Regions from separate parts of the Homo sapiens genome. Here region 2 is linked to region 1. A link means that fine-mapping ties the variant in region 1 to the expression of a gene that starts in the linked region. Tissue or cell type: monocytes. Region 1 holds a variant in brackets; the other region holds the start of a gene. All regions are shown on one strand. Distances are from middle to middle.

Region 1 (4,401 bases):
TGACTAACTAAGCAACTGTCCCTCCTCTTTTCTCCTTTAAAGAATCTCACATTTAGACAGATTATATGATCACCTTAATTATGTATAATAATGTAGAAAAGTTACTTGATAACTTTAGCTTTACATCAAAAACTCTGATTTTCTAACCCTAAAATTTGATACCTAGCATGAAAGATAGTCCCTTTAACAAAGTATTTGGTTTGAGAGGGTTAAATATTGTGCTCTTCTGGAATATTGACTATTTAAGAAAAGGCACTTGAAAAATAGCAGGTGTAAGAAAAACACTTTGATCTTCATACTGTTTCTTAAAAGCAGAAGATGAAGTTACTGTGTGAAAGAAACCCTTTCTATACTTGACATACGTAGCATCCTTTTCCTCAAGGACAAGAAGTTGAAATTAAGAGAATTCGGTACAGACTTTGCTAGAATAACTTATCTTTTAAACCTCCACATATTTTAGTCATGTTTTCACTGTTTAGTATTCCTTGTCCAATTTAGTATATAAGTAACTGACTCTGGTTCTTCTGATCTTCAGTTCTTTATGAGGGTTCCCAAGCCTTATAAAACTTTTCTTAAGTCAATGTAATTCTTGGACCCAACAAGAAACTGAAGAGGATAGAAGTGGAAGTCTTCTGCCCGTACAGGCTCTTTTTGACCTCTCATTTGAACATGTTCTGGCATTCAATACTCTCAAATAAGGAACTCAAAATTACACTGTCCATCTCACTATGAAAGTCGTTGTGAATGTTACTCCAAAATAGGAAGAATATCTTGAAAAGAACACACTGGGAAACAGCATACATCTATAGATTTCAAGACATAGAAGGAAGGATAGCCAAAATGCATTTCAATGATCTTTTCCTTGGTCAACTCCAAGTAAATTTGTTTATATCTATAGCACTGAAAAAAAGTACGGATACTTTTTGCAAACACCAAGAGTTCACTAGGCCATTTAGTCTACGCTCTTCTCTCTTAAATTTTTCTCTAGTCCTAATTAGTTATTCCTTTCAAATGTTTCAGACTTCTAATTATAAGAAATGGCTTTCACCTCATTGCTGGCACTTTAAGGTTTCTGCACTGTGACTCAAGTTACAATTCTTTAAGAAAGCATCCAAAAGGAACTTGCTAGCCAAAATTTCCTTTTCTTCTCTGAATTTCTAATTCTATTTCTACAGTAGACCACGAATGGCATCCTAATCCCAGAGTATTAAAATATTAAGAAAACAAATATCTTCTGTTGCATTTTTCATTATCATTATTTCTGGTCTTCTGCATTTTCAATTCTTTATTCCGGAAGGTGATAAACATACAAACCTCAACCTTGATCATACAGATTTCAAAGCCATTGCTTATTCCTGAATACCAATATCCACAAGCTCTCACTCTACCTCAGTGTCCAGTAAGTACAAATCAACATTTATAACCATTGTTCTGCACATATCCTAGTGATACTGATGAATAATTTGAGGCTGAAGAAACTGTTTTTCTATTTTCTAATTAGATAATTTTATTTTATCTGCTGTCAAATCTATCTGGAGATACACGGGCAGCCTTAAAATACTTATGCTAAGAAAAGTTTCATAAATAATTTGGCAGTTATGTTTTCTATGTTTACTTGTCAATTTTCATGGGCTCAGTAAGTGCAGCTAACAGCTTTTTAAAAATCCTAGCTTTAATATAATATTTTATAGTCACATTAACGGATCAATATACAATTGAAATATTATAAAATCCATGAACAACCATTTACTTACCTACACAATTAATGTTATGTAAATATGTATATTACACACATATGTGTGTGTGTATAT[TTG/T]TGTGTGTGTGTGTGTGTGTGTGTGTGTGTGTGCAGGAAGTAGAGAAAGCCAATGCTACCTAAACCAGAAGCTAATAATTTTAAAAGAAGTAAAGACAAAATGTGTATTCATCCTGTTATTTCCTTTTAAACTCTTGTGAAAATCTTTTCCATCACAGCTCCTTAGTTTTCTGTGCTCTCTTCCAAATAGTAAATAATATTATTTATGGATTGAGGCTGTTTGTGAATATGAGCATTGTGTTGTGGGTCTGATAGTGGAAGTCTGGTTATAATGTCTAAGATCAGGATGTGCATATTTAAAATCTGAACAGTAAAAGAGCAGTCTTTTCTTTAGGGAAATGCTTCTAGTACAGACATGCATAGATTTACAAATCATTACAAAAGAAATACTAAGGTATCAATTCCAGAAATTTTCATTGTGATGTATTACTCATCCTAGTTTTTATTTTTCAAAGTCTTGCATGTCAAGTCTAAACAGAGAACATACATTGTTAGGATGTATCATTTGTAGCAATGGGAAGAATTAGTAAAGAATCTGATATAACCTATACAGTTGAATAAAATCTTTATACCAGTGATAGCAGTACTACAAAAGATTAATATGCTTTGAGCTTCAGTGAATCTAAGGAGAAATATATCAAGTTAAACTCTAAGCAAATAATTTTATAGCAGAAAATAATTTTTGGGAGATCAAAATTGCTATTGAATCAAAACTGCAAATTTTACTATATTATCTACTTCAGTTTGTATTCTAGTGTAAAGTACTTAGATTTTCTTCTTTATTTTAACTCCATATCCAAGAGACATTTACACAGAAGAACTGTATATGAAAGTTTCTTTTTCTTCAGATATGCCAATGTCCTTTTCACCTCAGGGTCTTTGCACATACTGTTATTTTTCTTGAACATTCAGACCATTACATGACTGCCTCCTTTTCATCATTTAGCTCAAATGACACCTCCTGAGGTAGGCCTTTCCTCATTACTCTATTAAACAGGAGATGCCTCTTCACTCTTGTCAGAGAAGATTAAATCTGCATTGCCTTAGAAAACTGCAATGGCTTCCCCTGAAGCAGTTGTCATGCAAGATCATGTTGATTTTCCTCAGGACTCATCCTCACCACCATTTTTCCTTCTAGAATTATAACTAGACTCACGTCTCAGCAGTCCCCTACAGGTGAGGTACAAAGTGTGACCCAGGAGGTATACTACACTCAAAGATAACTACTTGAGTTTTCTAATTTGTACATAAATAGTGAATATGTGTGGGAATGGATAGTGAAAATGTGGGATAGTGGTGGAAGGACTATGAAGTTAGGTCTGGCTGAATTTATTGATATAGGCTCTCTAAGCAGAGATCCTGAATTTAATGTGGCAGCTTGAAGAGATAGGAAGAACTCTAACAATTTGGTTGGTTGGCTGAAACATTGGTCAAAATGGGATTCACAAATGGTATACAGCAATTTGGAAATGCTGGATCTGCCTTGGTTTAATGTAGGAGAGAGGGTTGAATGGCTTAGGAAGATGGGAATGTTAGAGTGAATTTGTGATTCAAGATATATTCACCCTCACTGGAAGCAGCCAGAAGACATACCTTTCATCATGACTGTGGAAAATATATTTGTGAGGGGAACCCTAGCATCCTTGAAGAGTTCTGTGGTCACTCTTGTCTGTAGGCATGCCTTATAATGGGAATCACGCTCACTGAATTGGAAAACCTAAATGCTGTGGAAGTAACTGGATTCTGGGTACAGCAGGGGCCAAGTTGTGGTGCTCAACTACAAAGGCAAGGTTGGCTTGGACAGCAGAGTCAAAGCAGCAGTCAAAATAATCTGACTTTTGCAGACCTATGGTCTCAGCTAGTTGAATATGGTGTTCCTAGAAGTGAAATAGTTAGGAATCCTACTAAATTACTACTTAATTTATGTAAGAAGAAAAGTTGTAGGTCAAGTGCACAAAAATCTAACCTGAATCATAGGGAGGGAGAGTCATAATCCATCAATCAGTTCCCAGATTTGAGCCAGTTTACAGACCCAGAATCCCTTAAATGAAGGGTAGGCTGGTCTAGCCAGGTACGCTGCTAAAACATTTATACTGTTAATCTTTCTCCAAGTCTTCCTCAATAAACTTATGGCCTTCTACCAGAGTAACTCTATATTTGGAAAAAGAAAGTAATCAGATCTTTCAAGGACTACTGGACACTGGCTCTGAACTGTCACTAATTCCAGGAGACCCAAACAGTCACTAAGGTCCATAGTCAGAGTACGGGCTTTGGGAAGTCAGGTGAGCAAAGGTTTAGCGCACGTTTATCTTACAATGGATCCAGCGGCTTCCCAAACCCATCCTTTGGTTATTTATCCAGTTCTGAAATGCATAATTGGAATACATATATTCAGCAGCTGGCTAAATGTCCATATTGGTTTTCTTACCTGTGGACTGAGGACTATTATGGTAAAAAGGGCTAAGTGGAAGCCACTATACCTGCCTAGGAAACCAGGAAAACAAAAATGAAAACAAACACAAATACAAAAGAAAAACTGCAATTCCTAAGGAATTGTCTAGATTAATGCCGCCATCAAGGATTTGAAA
Region 2 (4,401 bases), 60 kb before region 1:
ACCTTGGCCTGGAGCTGCTCAAAGGCTTCCCGGAGTTGTGTCCGTTTCCTCTGGGCTTCCTCCATCTGAGTCAGGGCCTTGGTGAGGCCAATTTTGATGGCCTCTACGTGCTCCCTGTAGGTGGCCTTCAGCTCTTTCCATTGTTCCTTAGCTGCAATTGCCTTCTGTCCTGAGATGAGCCACCAGGAATGAGTACATGAGTGAGGGTGGCCTGCTAGCCTGCCTCCCTGCAACACTGGGCCTCCTTCCCATCAGCCAAATGGGAGACCTAACTGAAATCCTCCTTCCTTCCCCACTCAGGTCAGCTGCTACTACAATCCCCTGCCTACTCACGGCTCGTGTCTTCAGAAGCCAAGGGGTCGAGACCCTTAGCAGTGTCCTCCTGAGCCAGGATGTTCTGCAGGAAATCCGCTACCTGAAGCTGGCTGCAGAGCAGCTTGTCTTTCTTCTGAGAGTCCTGCTCAGAGGGAGGGCAGAGACAGGGAACATCCTTACCTCCTTACAGGTTTCCTTAAGTCTGCTCTCTGCCAGTGCTGCCCTGTATCTCAGTAAGAGGAGCCAGGACCAGACCCTGGCTTCTGAAAGGCTCGCTCTCATCTTGTACATACCACCACAAACTCAACCAGGATCTTGGCTGGCAGTTCTGCCTCCTCCTGCAGGCCTACAGGTTCCAAGATGCCTGCCACCTCAGCCAGGACCCTGGAGGGGCAAGGAAACACAGGAAATTGCAGTTTCTTGTGGTGCTAGTTCTACAGTTCGTGTGTGTACACAAACAAATGTGGATGTGTATATCAGTATATATAGTATTGAGAGTCTTGCCTTGACCAGAGTTTACACAAGGGCCTGAAGGGTCCACAGCCTGCAACCAGGAATGGCGTGCATGGAGGGCACACGGTGGTAATACGTGCCAAAAGGAAAATCAGCAGGGCTAGTGGATAAGGAGTTTGAGAAAAGAGCTGAAATTTTAAATAGGGAGTGTCTCACTGAAGAGAAATCATTTGAGTCAAGATGTGAAGGAAGCCAGGGAGATATGCAAGGAAGGGGAAGAATGCTGGGCCTTGGGATCCCTCCTGGCGCTGAGCACCAGCCTTGGGGCAGAGTCTTGGAATAGCTGAGAAAGGACTCAGGGCAGAGGGCTGGATGCCTCGGTCTACTCTAGGGTTTTTCATTATTAGGGACTGGAGCAATCTACGAAGGGGCAGGGATGGGGATGAGAAGTGACTGGGAATGTGTCGTGTTGGGACAAGAAGACAGAAGTGAAACCGTCTCCTAGAGCACATCCTGTGGATTATGTGGATGTGGGGAGCGGCGAACGGTCCCCCAAAGGCTGTACTCCTGGAGCAGGCAACAGACACCTCAGGAACCTAAGACGGGACTGCGGTGAGGATCACTTCACGGCAGGGTCGAACCTCAACAGCTGTACAGGGTCGAGGGCACCAATCATTACACATAGGGGCCCACAAGGTCCTCCCAGGCCCGGCCCCAGCTGCCACTTAGCCGCAAACACTTACTCTAGGGCTGCAGCTTCCGCCTCTGTCTCCGCTGCCTCCATCTTTCCAGGCGCCGAGTTCAGCTGCCTTCCCACAATCCCTAAGATTACTTTGAAGTCACAGTCGACTTCGCGCCGGGGCAGGCGATTGGCTGCAGAGGTTAGTGGGCGGGCATCAAGGACCATTGTGCGCTCTAATTGGCAGGCGCGGATTCGCTCGTTGGCGGGCCTCGCTGCTTGGCGCAAGCGCGGTTATGGCTAGGCGCGCACGGGCTCTGCGCCTGCGCGCTAGTCCTTACGCGGTGCCAGAGACTATAAGTGGGCTTGAGCTCGACCGCGCGCCTGTGGAAGTTCTTTCTCTACTCGAAAAAGGGAAAGCATTTCCTTGAGTTTGCGTTTTAAGGGAAACTTACAGCATTGACACTTTATTTAAAATATTCACTACTGCTGTAGAAAAAAAAAAACAAAACCCCGAAAAACAGTGGGGCTGTTTCTAAGACGCTGGGAATCAGTAAAGAATAGTGATCCGGGAGATACAGGAAGCAAATGATCTGCGCTCAAAAAGCGAGCTGCTTTCAAAGATATTAGTATTTTATAGATGCGATGCAGGAGAGTGAACTCAAGCAGAGCCCAGCCGATTGCCTGCGTTGGCAAAATAGAACAGATATTCTGGGGAGACCAAGGTAGGTAATGTTCTTTGCAGAGTACAGGAGAAAGATAACTGCTGAGAGAGAACTTGGTATTCATTCAGCTGAGTACTGAGCAGTATGTGTCTCAAGAAACTAGCTAAAAGATTTTTAAAGATACCAGGACATGGCCGGTCGCGGTGGCTCACGTCTGTAATCCCAGCACTTTGTGAGTCTGAGGCAGGTGAATTACGAGGTCAGGAGTTTGAGACCAGCCTGGCCAACATGGTGAAACCCCCGTCTCTACTAAAAGTACAAAAAAAATTAGTTGGGCGTGGTGGTGGGCGCTTGTAATCCCAGCTATTCGGGAGGCTGAGGCAGGAGAATTGCTTGAACCAGGGAGGCTGAGGTTGCAGTTAGCCGAAATTGCGCCACAGCACTACAGCCCTGGTGACAGTGCGAGACTCCGTCTCACAAAAAAAAAAAAATACATATATATATATATATAAATATATATATATGGACATTACAGAGGGTCAGAAATAGTCTCTATTTCCACTAACCAGGCTGGAAAACTTCATAGTCCGTAGGACACTGGACAGAGTACACACAAAAAAGTCTTGATTTGATAGTTGTTTACTAATTATTTAGTAGGCAGTAATTAGTCCTAGCTGATCAGTGCTGTAGTGCCATCTAACTCTTAAAAGTAAGACCCAAATGGATCAAACTTAACAAACCATGACAGATGACAAGACCAAACTTCAGCAGTATTTATAGAAATAGAAAAATGTTCACCAAAGGTGCAATTTACATATGTCATACAAAGAAAAATTACCAAGCTTGCAAAAAGAAAAAAAAAAACACATAATGAGGAGAAAAATCAATTGCTGATCAGAACTGAAGTAATGTTAGAATCAACAGGCAAGGACATTAAAACAGTTATTGTAACTATATCCCATATCTTCAAAAAGATATCAGAACTATAATGAAAAAGGTAAGTGGTGCTAAGGATGTAAAGAAAGTGGAATTCTCATGTTGATGGAAATGTAAACTGGTGCATAGGCTTTGAACGTAGGGTTACCATATGAGTCACAATTTCATTCCTAGTTATATATCCAAGACAAATAAAAACATGGGGACACAAAAGTACACAAACCTCTATAGCAGCATTATTCACAAAAGCTGAAAGGTAAAAACAACCCAAAGGCCCATTAGCTGGTGAGTGAAAATGCATACTTTCATTCAATGAAGTATTAATCAGTAGTAAAGAGAACTTTATTACATGCTAAATAATGGTTACTACATGCTAAAATATGAACCTTGAAAATATACTAAGTGAAAGAAGCTAATTACAAAAGACCACATAATATATTATTTCATTTATGTGAAATGTCTAGATTTGACAAATCTATAGCAACAGAAAGTAAATTTATATAGTGCTTGTCCAGGGCTGGGGATTGGTGGGAATGAGAGGTTGAGAGAGTATGGGGAGGGACTGCAAATGGATATAGTGTTTCTTTTAAAGGGATAAATAAAATGTTCTACACTTCGGTTATGGTGAAGGTTGTACAATTCTATACAGAAAACCGCTAAATTTACACTTTACTGCTGTCATAAAAGCTGTTAAAAAAGTTAATCAAAGACACAAAGCTTGTAATAAAGACCTAAATCAAACTTGTAGAGGTGAACACTACAATGTGATAGATGGAATTAGATGGTATTAATATAGTATGTTACACATTGCAGAATGAAAGTGAAACACAGCTCTAGAGAAACTACCCAAAATCAATCACAACATTAAAAAATGAAAATAAAGTAACATGAACAAATCAATGGTGAGCTGTGAGACAACTTCTAACAGCCTAATAATATACTTGAAAGTGGAGTCTCAGAGAGGCAAGGGGAGAGGACAAGAAAACAAGTAATAAAGACCAAAAAATTTGAAATGTGATGAAAAATATAAATTCATATATTCAAGAAGCTTCACAAATCTCAAACACAAGAAATATTAAGAAAATGACATCAAGTTATACCATAATTGCATAACTCAAAACCATTGATAAAAAATTCTAAAGTAATAAGGGGTGTTGGGGCACATGTTACATAGAAACAAAGATAAGGATTACGGGAAATTTCTTCTTGGAACAATGCAAGCAAGACAGTAGAGTAACATCTTTCAAGTACTGTAAGAATAAAAAAAAGTCAACCTTGATTTCTGTTTCCAGCAAACAGCTTTCAAAAATGAAGACTAACTAGGCTGGATGCAGTGGCTCACACCTATAATCC

Alleles and levels. Alleles are on the strand shown, and positions count from the first base shown. SD is a standard deviation of normalised expression in the study named.
For the expression in monocytes of the gene that starts at base 1,575 in region 2, allele TTG in region 1 goes with a higher level than allele T (large effect, 1.0 SD a copy in Quach 2016).

Evidence for each region. PIP is the estimated chance that this variant, and not a neighbour inherited with it, causes the effect.
Region 2: ZWINT starts here. The variant in region 1 is fine-mapped to the expression of ZWINT in monocytes (Quach 2016, PIP 0.95).

What each region holds. Positions count from the first base shown.
Region 1 is chr10:56,419,315-56,423,715 of GRCh38, forward strand. No RefSeq gene overlaps it. Among named protein-coding and RNA genes, the nearest start is that of ZWINT, 60 kb to the left of the region's middle. The variant TTG/T (reference allele first, on the strand shown) is at 1,812.
Region 2 is chr10:56,359,685-56,364,085 of GRCh38, forward strand. ZWINT (ZW10 interacting kinetochore protein) reads right to left here and starts at 1,575. Exons shown (of 9, transcript NM_007057.4): 1 at 1,512-1,575; 2 at 609-699; 3 at 334-457; 4 at 3-169. The coding sequence starts at 1,552. LOC124902546 (a long non-coding RNA gene) reads left to right here and starts at 1,775. Exons shown (of 2, transcript XR_007062372.1): 1 at 1,775-2,172; 2 at 4,341-4,401. RefSeq lists enhancers at 1-659, 1-545, 1,285-2,024, 1,373-1,542 and a silencer at 1,633-1,842.